Homo sapiens: one gene and its partner. The protein of the gene in region 1 purifies or fractionates together with the protein of each later gene. This does not show direct contact. Each region holds a gene or a part of one and is shown on either strand. Other genes may lie near its edges. The genes, in order: SMAD5 and RUNX3.

The links.
Region 2: the proteins of SMAD5 (region 1) and RUNX3 purify together in Homo sapiens (affinity purification with western blotting, with the first as the bait; one study listed by BioGRID). This does not show direct contact.

The regions. Positions count from the first base shown.
Region 1 is NC_000005.10:136,153,209-136,157,022, forward strand, and holds part of SMAD5 (mothers against decapentaplegic homolog 5), read left to right. Parts: intron 1-383; 5' UTR 384-552; coding exon 553-955; intron 956-3,814. UniProt on the Homo sapiens protein: Transcriptional regulator that plays a role in various cellular processes including embryonic development, cell differentiation, angiogenesis and tissue homeostasis.
Region 2 is NC_000001.11:24,902,463-24,906,276, forward strand, and holds part of RUNX3 (runt-related transcription factor 3), read right to left. Parts: intron 205-3,814; coding exon 1-204. UniProt on the Homo sapiens protein: Forms the heterodimeric complex core-binding factor (CBF) with CBFB.

The DNA of each region.
Region 1 (3,814 bases):
AATCACGTTCAAAATTGACATAGCATGTAACATGGATTTCAGTGAAGAAAAGTACTTCAGAATCAAATTTTAGAAGAGTGTTTTAGGGTTTAGTGGCCTAATCAAAGGGAGTCCAGAAGCTATTTTTGGATAATACATAGGAGGTAGAGCAACCTGGTTTTGCCTCTGGTTATCATTTGACATTGCCAGTGTCTTACTTGTTCATATTATGGGGAAGGAATCGAGTGGTCACAGAACTTTTGGAGAAAATTTATCAATTTTTTGTTTACTTTGTAATGCTTTTCTGTTCTTATTTAATAAAATATGCCTTTCGATTATATTAATTTAAATTTGTATATATTGAATTGATTTAAACTAGGATCCTTTCCCCCTTTCTCTTTCAGGACTTGACCCAATGAAAGAAGCATATGGCACTTGTGAAGATAAATGTTACTCCTCCCTTTTTAATTGGAACTTCTGCTTAGGACCTGTGTATGACGTTTCACCTGTGATCTGTTCTTTCGGTAGCCACTGACTTTGAGTTACAGGAAGGTCTCCGAAGATTTGTGTCAAATGACGTCAATGGCCAGCTTGTTTTCTTTTACTAGTCCAGCAGTAAAGCGATTGTTGGGCTGGAAACAAGGTGATGAGGAGGAGAAATGGGCAGAAAAGGCAGTTGATGCTTTGGTGAAGAAACTAAAAAAGAAAAAGGGTGCCATGGAGGAACTGGAGAAAGCCTTGAGCAGTCCAGGACAGCCGAGTAAATGTGTCACTATTCCCAGATCTTTAGATGGACGCCTGCAGGTTTCTCACAGAAAAGGCTTACCCCATGTTATATATTGTCGTGTTTGGCGCTGGCCGGATTTGCAGAGTCATCATGAGCTAAAGCCGTTGGATATTTGTGAATTTCCTTTTGGATCTAAGCAAAAAGAAGTTTGTATCAACCCATACCACTATAAGAGAGTGGAGAGTCCAGGTAGGTCTTATTCCTGAGAAGAATTTGGAAAAACAAAAACAAAAAACCTCTCTTCCTGATATGCATGTAACTAGATTTAGTAATGAAAAGGTTGTATTAGCTTTGTGTTTCCATCTTAAATATTCTAATCTTGGAAGGGCTATTGGATTTTGAGTTTAGCTTTTTATATGTAGGTGATACAATTCTCAGGTGGCTTACTCTAATTCATTATTCACTGTAAGCACCCATATATCTACTCTGCCTTTTCCTGTGGATGACCTGTCTCTGTTTTATTTAAAGCCTAAGCTCCAAGTGTGTACTATATCCCATTCCTTTTTGTCAAATGAAGAACTTTGTTCCTACAGTTATCATCCTTCTCTCCAGCATTATATTTTCCCTTTCTACCAGAGTATTTCTGATAGCATACAAGCATGCCATGATACTACCCATCCTAAAATAAAACTTAAAAAAAAATTCTGCTTTTCACTTCATTCACATAACCCAACCCCAATCACTGCACTGTTTCCACTGGTCCTTTTAGAGGATTCTCCATTTTTATTATCTTTATGTTTCATTTTTTTCTTGTGACTTCTCTAGTTAGTCTTTCTTTCCTACCATTTAACTTGTCGAGATCACTAGTGACTGCCTTTTTATAGGTCAAGGGGTCATTTTTGAGTCTTATCTTACTGTCCGCTCAACTGCATTTGATACAGTTGATCTCCTTCCATCCTACTCAAAACTTTTTCTGTGTTTGGCCCCTAAGACAGTATGCTATCCTGGTTCTCCTACCTCACTGACTGTTCTTGCCCCTCTTTGCTGGCGTATTCTCCTGTTTTCACAGGAGTCAGTCCATGGACCTTTTCTCCATTTATATTATTTCTTTATGTGCTTTCATGCTGTCACATGTCTTAAGATTGTCTATAAGCTGATGCTCACATTTTGAACTCAAGTCAACTTCTCCCTTGAGTTTTAGATTTGTGTATCCAGTTGCCTACTTGACATTTCCACTTGAATATTTATTTATTAAACATACCAAATGTAATATGTCTAAGCGCAGTTTTTTTTCTCTGGTTTCCCCTATTGAAGTGAATGGCAACAGCATTCATGTAATTGCTAATGCCCTAAACTGCAAGGTCATCTTTTATTCTTCTTACTTAAATCCTATATTTAAAATATGAGCAAATGCTGTTTGCTGCACCTTCAAAATATGTCTTAATAAATATGTCACCTCTCATCATTTGTGACATCACTACTTTAGTACAGTACATCATCATCATCACTCACCTTAAGTAGTGTCCTAATTGGTCTTTCTGCGTCTCTTCTTCCCCTTAACCCATTGTGTTTTCCACACAACAGCCAGAATGATTTTTTAAAAACATACTAAATCATGTCAGTTCCTACTGAAAACACTTTCAAGGCTGTCACACTTAAAGAGATTTCTGTAAGACTCTGTATGACCTATCCTCAGAGTTCTCTGTTCCTTGGACTTGCCATACTCCTGTTTCCAGGCTTTAACTCTTGCTGTCTACTTATTCTCCCCCAGGATCTTTCCATGGCACATTTTCTCATTCCATTCAGTCCTTGCTCAAATATCCGCATCACTAATTGACTCTATATTAGATATTTATTTTGTTTATTGACTGACATGAGCAGAGTCTTCCTCTATTTCATTCATTACTCTATCCTTAGTGCTTAGAATAGTATATTGTTGTCTGGCACTTGGTAGGTGATGCTCAGTAAATTTTTTTTATAATGAATGGTATAAGCTGAGCTGCTAGCTGAGTGCATTAGTCATCTATTGCTGCATGACAGATTGCCACAAACTTAGTGGCTTAGCACAATGCATGTTTATTACCTCACAGTTTCTTTGGGTGAGGAGTCCAGTCACATTTAGCTGGGTCCTTTGCAAGGCGCTGTAATCAAGGTGTTGGTTAGGGCCAAGGTCTTATCAGAAGCTCAATTAGGGAAGGATCTGCTTCCAAGCCCATGTGATTGTTGACAGATTTAGTTGCTTTCACATAGCCTTCTTTATAGGTAGTTCACATTCATGACAGCTTCTTCAAAGCCAGTAAGGAAGAGAGGGTCTTCTGGTAAGAAGGACATTATATTCTTGTGGAATGTAATCATACATACGCTGTCACCTTTGCCATATTCTGTTGGTTAGAAGGAAGTGATAGGTCATACTCATACTCAAGCAGGGAGAATTACCCAATGGTTTGAATACCTGGAGGTGGGAATCACAGTGGTTACCTTAGAGTCTATCTGGGTTTCACGTGGAGATGTGTGGTAAAAAGACTGAAAATAACATTGGATGTGGAGACTAGTAGAAAGGATAGCAGATAGCAGTGATTATGCTGTCTGTGAAAGTTCAACTTAAGAGCTTTAGAGTGTCTTTAGACAGTTGGTATGATATGATTCTCAGTTTCTTACTGAGTCCAAGGAAAGCTGATAGCTGAAGGAACTGATGAAGAAAGGAAGATAAAAGGATTTAATAGAGAAGTATAGGCTGAAAAACTCCCAAGCTTGCTATTTGCTAGGAGGGAGTCTAGGAATTTTATGTATTCCCCTATAGCCAAAGTGTGACTAGTAGTCAGCCAGCCAATAGAAATGTCTTATTTTTTGTATACATTTTTCTCAGCTATGATTCATTCTATAGAAAAGACTGGGGCATAGCTCTGATACTTTTAAATAACGGAAAATTTCATGTCTTACTAGTTCAACTATTGGAAAGAGACTATAGAGACCTCATGTTTCGCCCTGAGCCCAAACTCTTGGGGGAAGGGGCAGATTACCCAGCTAGATTAGCTTGCTGACCCCCCATGATTAAGCAGCTATGACGCAGAATGGATCACTTCATATTACCAGTATTAATAAAGTAGT
Region 2 (3,814 bases), on another chromosome or scaffold:
AGCGGCTGGTGGCCGGCATGCCCGCCACGCTGAGGCTGCTGATGCTCGTGCCCGAGGGCGTGGCGCTGTAGGGGAAGGCAGCTGACATGGCCCCGGGATAATGCATCCTGGGGTCTGGGAAGCGGCTCTCCGTGAGGGTTGGCAGCGTGGGGAAGGAGCGGTCAAACTGGCGGGGGTCGGAGAATGGGTTCAGTTCCGAGGTGCCTGGAGGACAGCAGGGAAGAGGTCAGTTCCAGCTCGAGACAACCCCAGGAGGGCTTCCTGAAGAATGACCTTGGGCTCTGGTTCCCAAGGCCCATCTGGGGGACCCCTAGTTCTAGACCTGGCTCTCCTCTTCCTGCCCTAGGCTGCCCGGGGCCTCCCCCGCCAGGACTCCGAACACAGACCTGCCGGGAAGCTGGTTGGAGCGTGCCCCGGGCCAAGAGGGGCCATGGGAGCCCCCCCACAGCAGCAACAGAACAGAGGAGGGGGTCTATTCTTCTTTTTAAATCCTCCTTCCCAGCCTCGCAGAGGAGAGGCCTAGGATGCGGTGGTGGGGCTGAGGGCAGAGTCAGCTCAGGCCTCCCAGCAGCCCTGCCCAGGCAGGTTCCTCTCCCCACCGGCCCATGTTAACAGCTGGGAAGGCCGTGGATGTGTAAAGGGCTCCAATGACCGTGTGAGACTGGGAGTTGGAACCCGCTTTTGAAGACAAGAAAATGGAGGCAGAGAGAGAGCAAGACTGAGTCTCTGTGGCAGAGAAAGGACTGGTTCTCATCACAAGGCCTCTGCTGGGGACACACGTGCCTCTCCTGCCCAGGTGCAGCACGCGGAGGTTCTGTGCGCTCACACCTGGGTTGTGGGCACTGAGTTCACAGGAGCTCTGGCCTCCACCTCACCCTGGGCCTGTGTCTCTGGAGCCGACTCGTGGCCACACAGTGACTGGATGCCACCCTAACCTGCCTTGGCAGCAAAGTGAGACAGCAGTCAGACAAACTTGGGGACCCAGACCCCAACCTGGTCACAGTGTCCAGCCCAGACTCTGCCCCTGCTCCCCCAGGAATGTGGCTTCTCAATGGGCTCCAAGGCAAGGGTGTTCCATCCTCTGTCCCCAACTTTTGTCATCACAGACCCCCAAAACCTCAGCATTCAAAGGGGCTCAGGGATTGAGTCTAACACCCTTGATGGGGAAACTGAGGCCCAGACAGGGTGAGGCACTTCCCTCAGGGTCACACAGCACATTGGACCTGGCACACAATCCTAGGGCCTCTGGTCCTGAGCCCCAACACGTACTTGAGAGGGAGCTGTCCCGTCTTTGAGGCAGCACAGGATCAAGGCTTACTGTGTGGCTTCTGGAGCCGGACAGTTATCCTGGTTTGGACACTTACTAGCTTTGTGTCCTTGGGCAAGTCACTTAACCTCTCTGCGCATCAGTTTCCCCATATAAAACATGAGACGATAACAGTTCATCAGGATTCAGTTAATTCACATCGAGTACTTAGAATGGCACTGGGCACAGAGCAGGGGTCCATGAGGCTTTGCAAGGCCACTGTGGCTGTGGTGTCTCTTACTCTGGGTACCCAGGAGAACTGGCTCATTCAGGGCCCTGCCAAGTTGAGGCCCTGGTGCAGGGCCTCCCTTCTACTCTGGCAGCCGGGGGAGGTGGATGAGCCCCCAGCAGTGGTCCAGAGGTGCAGTCTGTCCAGCCCAGCAACCCCTCTGTGTCACCCACCAAAGGATAAGGGCCGGTGCTAGCCGGAGTGGGCTCTGCCTGCCACGCCGAGGCTTGGCTGAGGACGGAGAGCTATGAGCCTGAGGTGTGTGTGACTTCGGCTGGGACTTGGAACTTCTCGGGGCTTTGGGGTCTTCCCAAGTCAGCTGGGGTATGTTTCCCTCAGCAGCGTACTCTGGCCCTGGGCGTGGATCCGAACGGAGTGATGCTCCTGGCTTAAGGTAAGAAGATGTGGGGACAGCAGTCTGGGTGGCGGGGGCCTTCTGGGACATCTGGGATGTTCCCTAGTAGGTCACTTGGCTGTCCCGGCCCCTTGAGGCCGAGAGCCTCCGAGGCACCTGGCTGCCAGTTTTCATCTGGGGAGCCCCTCGGGGGGAGAGGTCCTGTTGCAGGTGCTGGGCACGTCAGCACAGCTGAGATGGGTGGGGTGGAAGTGGGTGCTGGCCGCCTGATGGGAACCCCATTCTCAAGACGAAGGAAACAAATGGGGACCGCAGGATACAACGGCAGGACTGTGCCCCTCAGAGCTCACGCGGGCTGCAGGGCGCTGGGCTGGGCCTCCCTGGACCTGCCACCATCCCCTCCAGCCTCTTTCCTCAGGGCCACCACCCCTCCTCCGGGGTGGTGGGGGAAGTACCTGCCCTCAGCACTCCCTCAGACCCCCCAGCAGCTTCCTTGGAGCTCCTGTACCCCCACCCTGCGGCCTCGCAGCCCCAGGAAACCCGAGCTGCCCGGGGCACTGTCGAGTGGCCAATCCCAACAGTGGAAAGAAATGTTTATTTTCTTCTCCAGATTGTCCGGGCTGCTGCATGGTGGCTGAATGAGCCCTTTCAGCTGTGAGAAGCCCCCATTGTGGGCGGCTGCGGCTGGGGGCTGGGGCTGGGGTATGGGAGGTGCTGGGGTCTCTGCACTGCTTGCCAGTGACCAATATTGGAGGGTCAAAGCACTTAACAGGCACCGAGGGAAGTGGTGGTGGGGTGTCCCAAGGGGGATCCCCAGGAGGGAGTCCGAGGGCAGAGGGAGGAGGGCCTGTGAGAGTGACTTCCCAAGCCTAGGTCTGCCAGCAACCCCTCTTTGTCAGGGACCTCCTTCTCCCCACTTCACAGATGAGAAAACTGAGGCTGAGTTTAAGTGACTTGTCTAAGATCATACAGCCAATGCCTGGCAGAGCCTGAATTCCTAGCCTGGTCCAGCTGACTGCAGAGTTCATGCTCGCCCTGTCCTGGTCATCCGAGGCCCTTTCTCTCACCCAAAGGGGATGGGCCTGAGGATGGAGATGCCTGGCTGCCTGTGGCCCAGTGCTGTGGGGGGCTAGCGAGGGACTGGGCCAGGCCTCAGGAGGGAGCAGGCAGAGAAGCAGAAGTCAGCCACTGCCCCACACAGGCTGGGCTCCTTTCCTCCCAGCCCAGGATGGAAGCAGCAGCTGTGCCTGCCGTGGGGCCAGGCATTGATTCCCAAGCTGTGCCCACCCAGCAGTGGATGGGCAGATGTGGGCTCTCCTTCCATGGGGGCTGGTGGACAGGAAGCCACTGTTCACCCCACCTCCTGGATTCTGGCTCCCCCGCTGAGCCCCGATCCCCTGGCCTGGCTCTGTCCATGGCAGAGAAAGGCTGGCTCTCAGGCTACTGCACCTCGACAGATGCTGGCCCATGGGTAGCAGAAGCAGAGGCAGCTACGCGGCAGGGGTGGGCGTGAGCACAGCGTGCAGGGCTCCTTCCGCTACCTCTTGAGAGCAGACCTCCAACTCCTGGGCTCGAGAGCTGAGAGTCTCAAATGCACTAGCTCCTGGGCTCAGAGAGGCTGGGCCTGGGGCTTCTCCCAACCTTGGCGTCTCAGCAGGACCAAGGCCAAAAGTCCTGAGCCCAGGCCAGAAGGGGAGGGGTCCTCTCTTCACACTGAAGGCCTGCATCCAGCCCCTGGCTGCAGCACTATGCCTGGAACAATGTCAGTAGAGAGACCCAGTCGGCCCCCACCTCAGCGTGGCACCGGAAAAGGGGGTGGGGCAGGCAGACCGGTTGGCAGCCCTGTTCCAGGCCCCTTTATCTGTCCCCTCAGAAGTACAGAAAGTTCTTGGGAGCAGGTACTGTGGAGACTGTGGACCTGGTC